Homo sapiens: one gene and its partner. The protein of the gene in region 2 purifies or fractionates together with the protein of the main gene of each other region. This does not show direct contact. Each region holds a gene or a part of one and is shown on either strand. Other genes may lie near its edges. The genes, in order: TPD52 and ZNF133.

Region 1 (3,813 bases), on a different chromosome or scaffold from region 2:
TATCCAGGGTTATCTTGCCACCCATTCTTACTGGGTTATTCTGAGTACTAAAGGACAAAATGTACATATTTGTGGCAAGTCAATACATAACACTTATGGGATTTGAATTTTATTTCTCCAACTGGCTAGCTTTCTTTCTATTCCTTAGAATAAGTGGTCTGGAAAAATTGAAGTTACAAAAAAAGGCAGGCACACTTGAAAATCAGAAAAAAAGGGTGCCGTGTCGTCCAAAGAAAAGCTGCTGAAGCATCCTTATCCTCTTTTTCTTCCCCTCTCCAGACAAAAGGCACAACAGTGTCCTTTACACTCCCAAGGAAAGTGTATGATCAAGGAAACATACGCAGATGTTGCTGTCACGTCTTGCCACCCTTTGGCAATGTTCTGTTTTAGTTCCTGTAGAGAATTGATTCCAAGTTTCCGCTTGATCTCTGCTAGATGCTTCTCTTTTGCTGCTAACACTTGAGACAGAGTCTGGATTTCTTCTTCTACCTATGAGGAAGGGGTTTGGGGTAAGAATATAGCAAAAGTCATTCAGTAAGTTAAGATTATTACCACAGAACTACATCCAAAATTCCAGTCATTAAACATTTTTTTGAATCATTTATCTTTCTCTCTAAAAACAATGTATAATGTTGTTGAGTAAACTGGTTACTTGCTGATCTCTCCTGTAGAGTTCTCTTTCCTCCTCCATGGGAGCTCTTTATAATCCCATCTTAAGCTGTTTTTGGCCTTCTCCTCTCTCCCTATACTTCCTTACTCAGCTATCTCATGTAGGTTTAGGACTCAAATTTCTACACAGATAATACTTAATAAAGCACTCTAACATCCACTCTCCCGACCTGTGGGTCTGCCTTCCCAGCCTAGACATTTCTATCTGAATGCCTACAAAACTTGTATTTGTATACTAAATCAAAATAATCTCCATCCCCTACCAAAACACACACAACCAAGCCAAACCCAAATCCAATCTCCTTGCATATTTGATATGAGTATATATACTGGATACATATACTCAGTCCCTGTGTCTGGCAAAGTCATGGCCATAATAAATCAAACCGCCTCCTCAGGAGATCCCTGCTCTCAAGGGTTTCATGTGAACCCCTTGATGCTGACTGCCCAGACTTGACTAGGTGGTTAGAGGTGGGCCCTGACCCATGGACAGCCACCCATCAAGAGCCAGTGGATGAGCCCAGTGTGAAAAGAGGTGCTCAACTATTCGTCTCTCTCACTCAGGAATCTAGTTTGAGAAGTGAGATGACATTGCAAGTAGAAGCTGAAAAAACTTGAAGAAGCCTTGAGGTATAGGTAGGCTACAGTGAGATTATGAGAGGTATGGAAAGCTTAAATATGCTTGAGGAATCTAAAACTGTAAGCAGAAGCTATGAAGAAAAGGAAAAAATGGACAGAGTAGAACAAAAGGCTAATCCAGGAAAACAGGGAAAATGGTAGACTCTCTATTTCAGAAACAGGGAAAAGGGTGGACTGCCTATTTCAGAGAGAAATAGACACCATGTGGAAGAGACTTTAGGTCCCAGGAAATTGAAAATCTAGGTCCCTAAAGTATATCCATTAACATTCAAGACCCTCAGAGAAATGCGTCTCCTGGCTTGTTGCAAAGCCATATTTTCAGCCCCAACCTGCACGGTATTTCTATGATTTCAAAGACAACATGCCCTTTAAAAATAACATAGAGTATTGCTCAGTCAAATGTTTTCACAGATGTTTAAGTCTTTAGAGAACACAAAACAAAGAAAATTAGTGCAACGGAGAAAAGGATAAATCAAATGTGATGCAGCTGCCAAGAAAAAAAAAAAAAGAAGAAAAAGAACCTACAACACCACTCTCAGATAAGATTAACTGGAACAGAGGTCCCTCAGAACAAATAAATAATCCCCTGTGCTTGTCAGAGTCACAAGTACTGGACCCAGTTTTGTAAGTCACATTTTAAGATGTACATTGACGAAGTGGAATACGAGAAGAAAAGGACAAAAAAAGAGGAAAGAATAAGGTTCAAAATTAAGTAAATTAAATGATTTGCCCAAAGTCATCAAACAAATAATGTAGGAACCAGAATTCCTATCTAGGTTTTCTGAATGCACGTCTCAGTTTACTGGCTGAATTCTCATGTACACTCTCTTAAGCTTCCCACTTCCTCTGTCTCTACTTCAGGCTCCAAAGCTTCAGACACTTCTAAGAATAGACTTAAATGGTAAGTTTCCCACCCCTTAGCACTTCTCTGAGGTACTCACTTCCTCTAATGAAAGCTGCAAAGACAAACCACTCTAAATCTTTCTGAACAATGCACAACACAGTATATTCCCCACCTTTGTTGGTTAGCTTGTGCTGCTAACACACCTAGCCCAGCACATCATGGCTGCGATTCCTTAATTCAATATATACATGTAAAACAGAGTGACTTTAAAAGCATAAAGAGCATGATTAAGAATCTCTGATGTGTCTATCACTATATACAAAGATCAACTCAAAATGGACTAAGGACCCAAAACCATAAAACTACTAGAAGAAAACATAGGAGAAACACTTCAGGGCATTGGTCTAGACAAAGATTTTATGGCTAAGACCTCAGAAACACAGGCAACAAAAACAAAAATAGACAAATGGGACTAAATTCAAGGAAATCATCAACAGAGTGAAGAGATAACCTGTAGAATGGGAGAGAACATTTGCAAACTATTCATCTGACAAGGGACTAATATCCAAAATATACAAGGAACTCAATTCAACAACAAAACAAACAAGCAATCCCATTTAAAAAGTGGGCAAAGGATCTAAATAGACATTTCTCAGAAGAGACATATAAATGGCCAACAAATATATTAAAAATGCTCAACATCACTAATCATCAGGGAAATGCAAATCAAAATCAAAATGAGGTATCACCTCACACCTGTTATTATGCCTGTTATCAAAAAACCAAAAAATAACAGATGCTGGCAAGGATCCAGAGAAGATGAAACTCTTATACACTGTTGCTGGGAATATAAATTAGTACAGCCACTATGAAAAACAGTATGGAGGTTTCTCAGAAAAACTTAAAATAGAAATACCACATAATCCAGCAATCCCACTACTGGGTTACTTATCCAAAGGAAAGGAAATCAGTGTATCAAAGGGTACCTACACCCCCACGTTTATTGCAGCACTATTTACAATACCCAAGTGTCCATCAACAGGTGAATGGATAAAGAAAATGTGGTATACACAATGGAATACAATTCTGCCATAAAAAAGAATGAAATCCTGTAATTTGCAGCAACATGGATGAGCCTAGAGAACAATACGTTAAGCAGAATAAATCAGGCACAGAAAGATAAATACTGCATGTTCTTACTCACATGTGGACGCCAAGAAAAAACTCTGAACCCATCTAAGTAGAGAGTAAAATTGTGGGTGTTAGAGGTTGGGAAAGGGAGGATGCCTACAGGTTGTGCTTCAAACGACACTGTCATGAAAGTAAAAGACAACCAACAGAATGGGGAAAATATTGGCAAATTACATACCTAATAAGAGTCTAGTATCTAGAACATATAAAGAAACTTACAACTCAATAAAAAGACAATCCAATTAGAAAATGGGCAAAGGACTTAAATAGACATTTCTCCCAAGATATACAAATGACCAATAAGCACATGAAAAGATGCTTAACACCATTCATTAGTAATTTGAGAAATGCAAATCAAAACCACAAGGAGATACCACTTCATACCCATTAGGATGGTTACAATTAAAAAAAACAGAGATTAATAAGTGTTGGCAAGGATGTGGAGAAATTGGAACCCTCAGACACAGCTG
Region 2 (4,586 bases):
AGCAGGGCCTTTTCCACGGTGGAAATTTGGGAGGGAAGGAAGAGCCAGTAAAGGAGACAGAGGAGGAGCAGGCTATGAGTTAGGAGGAAAACCAGGAAGACCTAGTACCAAGAGCAACTGTGTGAAAGGATATATTAAGAAGGAGGATGTAAACAATTACATCAAATGTTGCTGAGAACTGATTGTGGCCTTTAGTCAAGGAGACCATTGGTAACCCTGACAAGAATATTTTTTGGTGTCACTTGAAAAAGCCTTACTAAAATATTCGAAACATAACAGAAGGATAGCAACGCAGACAACAAACATAGATAATTCTTTCAAGGAGTTCAGCTCTAAATGGGAGGAAAGACAAGGCAAGAAGGTGAAGAAGAGACAGGAAGCTAGGGCAGTGCAGAAATGGAGACAAAGGGAAAGAAAAGGAATCGAGAAGAATGCACAGGTGGAATAGGAGGATACAACTTTTGTTTTGTTTTGAGGTGGAGTCTTGCTCTGTTGCCCAGGCGACAGATTCTCCTGCCTCAGCCTCCTGAATAGCTGGGATTATTGGTGTGTGCCACCACGCCTGGCTAATTTTTGTATTTTTAGTAGAGATGGGGTTTCACCATGTTGGCCAGGCTGGTCTCGAACTCCTGACCTCAGGTGATCTGCCCGCTCTGGCCCCCCAAAGTGCTGATTACAGGTGTGAGCCACTGTGCCCGGCCAGGAGGACACAACTTCTAATGGGAAGTAAGTTTGGAAACAAGGATGCAAGGAAAACTCAGAGGTCCAGCTTATATCAAGTTATAAGGCTGTCAACACAGATCAGCAAGATCAGAAGAAATAGGAGGAGAAATGAGGCAGAGATAGGGAAAACTGGGATGCTGTTTCCAGATACTTTTCCCTCTCCTGCCTCTGACCAGGGCTGTTCTGACTGGTGGAAAAAAAAGATTTTTTTTTTAACAATGGGGGAAAACAATATGGGCTAGATATTAAATGATATTAATAAGTTATTAATTTTGTTGGGTATAACAAAATATAATTGTAACAATGTAACTGTATAACAATGAAATTGTGGTTATGTTAAAAAAAGAAGTCCTTATGTGTTAGAGATGCCTCCTGAAGTGTTCCCAGGTGAAATGATATAACTGGGATTTGCTGCCAAAACTCTAGCAGGGAAAAGAGTAAGTGAGAGTATTGGAAGACAGAAGAACAGAATGTTAACAACTTCACAGGACCTGACAAGCCCTGGGAATGAGCAGTCTGAACAAATACTGAAAGAAGGAATGTAGGGGAAGAATATAGGTGTAATGAATGAGAGCATCAGCTCTGAAAAATATTCCCTGTGAAAATGATCACTCTTAAAACAAGCCTAGTTTCCTGAAGGAACCAGCTGGGGCCCTGATCCCTGGATGGGACATTGTAGAACACAGACGTCAAAGCTGAGCAAAAGAAACCCACTCATGGTTCGAAATGCAAAAGGTAAGTGGCACCCACCTGAAGCTGGGCTGTCAGGAGCTCAGGAGTACCCCCTTTCCCCAGCAGGCAGTCCTCTCTGGGCAGACAGGAGCCACAGGGAGGCAGAACAAGAACAAAAAGCGTTCAAGAAAATCAAGGGAAATCCTCTCCAGCAGGGCAGTACCTCCTATTCCTTAACAGCATCAGGAATGAACCTGCCACAGAAGAAAAGGAGAAAAGAACTGCGGGCAGCTTCCTGGGAACACAGCTGGGGTACAGGTTGAAAGCACGACCTGCCCTGATATGCTGTTGACGCTGAGCATGAAGCGACCTTCTCTGTGCCTGTTATTAATGAAAGGTAATATTCACTGAACACTTAGTATACACCAGAGACTGTTACAGCCACTGTAGGAGTTTCACCTCATTCTATCCTTTCAACAACCCAATACGATAGATGCTATTATCCTCTTTAGGATAAAATCGAGGAAACTGAGGTACAGTGAAGTCAGCATCTTGCCCAAGGTGACACAGCTATAAAGTGACAGAGCCTAGAGGAAATGTGGCTGTGGAGACCGTGCTCTTACACAGTAAGGGCAGTGACGGTGAACTCTGGATTGCAAGGATTCTCTGTGTCCATTCTGAGATGAATCAAGATTGGTCATAAGGTTTTAAGTGTTGAATCTGGGTGATGGAGATCTGGTCTATAGAGTTCTATCTACTTCTGGCTGTTTGAAATTTCTCCGCAATAAAAACTTAAATGGAATGTAAAATCCCAAAGCCTGGCCACACCAGGGGCCTGGGAATCCGTAATTCTTGCGATCAATGACGGTCCCTGGGACCTTTGGAAAAAACCTGTCCTGTGCGTCCCAGCCAGACTTCCTCCTCCAACGCCCGAACCCGGGGGTGACCAACCAAAGTGAAACCCTAAGATCGCGGCAAAATGGCCACCCCAGATCCAGTCTAACCTTGGCTTGTTTGGTCAAGCCAGACCGCTCCTCATTCCACTCCAGCAAAGCCGAAGAATAGTGTGGCCCCAAGAGACTAGCCCTCAACCGACCAATGCCTCGGGGACACATGGCCCCAGGGATGGTTCCCATTCCACCACCTGGGAAATACCATTCCCCCAAAAAGCTTATTTATTCAACTCCCCCAAAACCGGGGACTTATGGCATCAGCGACTCCCTTTCCCAATACCCGACTTCAGCCAAAGCCGAACCTGTCCCCACCCACAAGAACCCTAGGAGAGAGAGCCCGATCCCCCACTCATCACCATCCAGTTTCACGGATGGGCTTCACCCAACTCCCCTGGAGATGCACGCCCACACCCCCAAAATAAGACATCTGGGAGAGGACGGCCTGCGCCACGCCAGCGCGTTCCCACCACAATCACCACCCCCGCGCCACCCGCACGGTCCCCAAATTCAGCCCATAGTCCAGCCTTTCGGGACCTTCCTTTTCGCGCAGAAAAGGGTACGGCTGCGGCAAGGGTCCCGCGGGAGCCTCACTCACCAGCGCCACCAAAGAACAAGGGGTCGCTCCAGCCACCAGCTGGGGAGCTCCTCCAGCGGGGCGCCAGGACTACACTACCCCGAATCCTCGGCACAGCGCCCGGACCACACCTCCCAGGATGCTCGGCGCCACCAGGCGCGCCCTGAAGGCCGGCAGCTCCCATTGGCCTCTGACGGATCCGTTTCTGAGTAACACGCTCCGGTCACCGGAGAATGGCCACTGTGGCACCTGAATTCTCCCTCTTTTTTCTTAACCACGTGCATAAAACACGTAGGAGCTCCCGAGAAGAGTGCCTGGCCCTACTGTGACCCTCCTTCTGAGCGCCTCTGTCTCGAAAACTACACTTCCCAGTGACCCCTGGAGCGACTTCCGCACCCGGTACCGGCCCCGCCCCTTGGCGCGCGGAAATGACGTTTCGGGGCGCATCTGTTCGGCTTCTGGGGTTGGCGGAGGTGTACCGCTGGCTGACCAAGCTTGTTCAGGTGCTGGTTTGTGTTGCAGCGGCCTGTGGTCTCCCTGGCTCCAGCCGCCTGCTTGGAAAGTCACGCCCCATATTCCTAAACACCGGGCGAACGTCATGTCGTATACCCTTTAGCTCCATTTAAAGCCTTGAAAAGGCCGAGCAGTCTGCCTGAAGTCTCACATCCCGTACGAGGTAGACCCGATTCTGAGCCCACGCCCTCAACCCGAATACACCTTTTCCGGTGCCCTGAGACCTTTTTCTTCTTTTTGAAATCCACGAAGTTATTGTTAAACTCTCATCTCCTGAGAAGCAGAAGCCTCAGTCTCGGGCCAGAGCTTGGCCTGCCGTCGGCTTGGATCTCTAGGTCTTTGTCCGGGATCCTGGTTGAGAACAAGATTGCGCTGGTGCCATCTGGGACGCCCCATCTGGGGAGCTCGAGGGGAAGGCCCACGTCACTCTTGAGAGGGCTTTTCCACCCGTGCACCCTCTCACTGCCCTTCACCTTCCTCAGATAGGCTTTCTGAAACTTTGTCATTCTCTTGGAAGACCAAGAAAATGACCACTGTCTGAAGGGCCAGGGAGATGAGAATTTCCTAAAATTCTTTTGTAGCTCTCAGAGGGTGAATCCATTCCCTTCTGGTACCCCGAGGCTACATTATTTATTGTGAATTCAGTTCAGTCCTGGCTCCGGAGACATGTCCAGTGTCAATTGGATTCATCCCTCAACATCATTCTCTGCCTCATGAGTCAGTCATCACCAAGAAATTAGTTGTTAATACACATAAAGGTTCAGAACAACAATGCAGGGATGCCTGTGTTCAAGTGTTCACTTGTGCTGGCTGTACAATAAAGACACAGATGGCTGACATCTCTTAAGCCTGGAAATGAAGACTTACAGGATGAGGTGCTGCCTGAGGAATTAGGCAAGATGAGGAGTTGGAAGAACACAGACGAGTAAGGAAGAGTGTAGGAAGTGTGAACAGAATCTCAGGGTCTGAGCCACTGGGTGGACTGTCATGACCACAGTGAGATTTTCAGCAGCACGTGGTCTTGCAGCCAGCTGACTTGCATATAGACAGGGATGCTAGATGTCCACCGTCTAGATGTACAGCTCTGTCATACAGATATTTGGTGTGTCCAGCCTCCAGTTTCATCTTTGACAGACCTCAGCATTTAATAA

What was found.
Region 1: the proteins of ZNF133 (region 2) and TPD52 purify together in Homo sapiens (affinity purification with mass spectrometry; one large-scale study listed by BioGRID and IntAct). This does not show direct contact.

What each region holds. Positions count from the first base shown.
Region 1 is NC_000008.11:80,052,942-80,056,754, forward strand, and holds part of TPD52 (tumor protein D52), read right to left. Parts: intron 490-3,813; coding exon 341-489; intron 1-340. Other genes in the region: TPD52-MRPS28 protein, read right to left, coding at 341-489.
Region 2 is NC_000020.11:18,286,962-18,291,547, reverse strand, and holds the start of ZNF133 (zinc finger protein 133), read right to left. Parts: upstream 3,022-4,586; 5' UTR 2,944-3,021; intron 1,650-2,943; exon of another isoform or gene 1,474-1,649; intron 1-1,473. UniProt on the Homo sapiens protein: May be involved in transcriptional regulation as a repressor.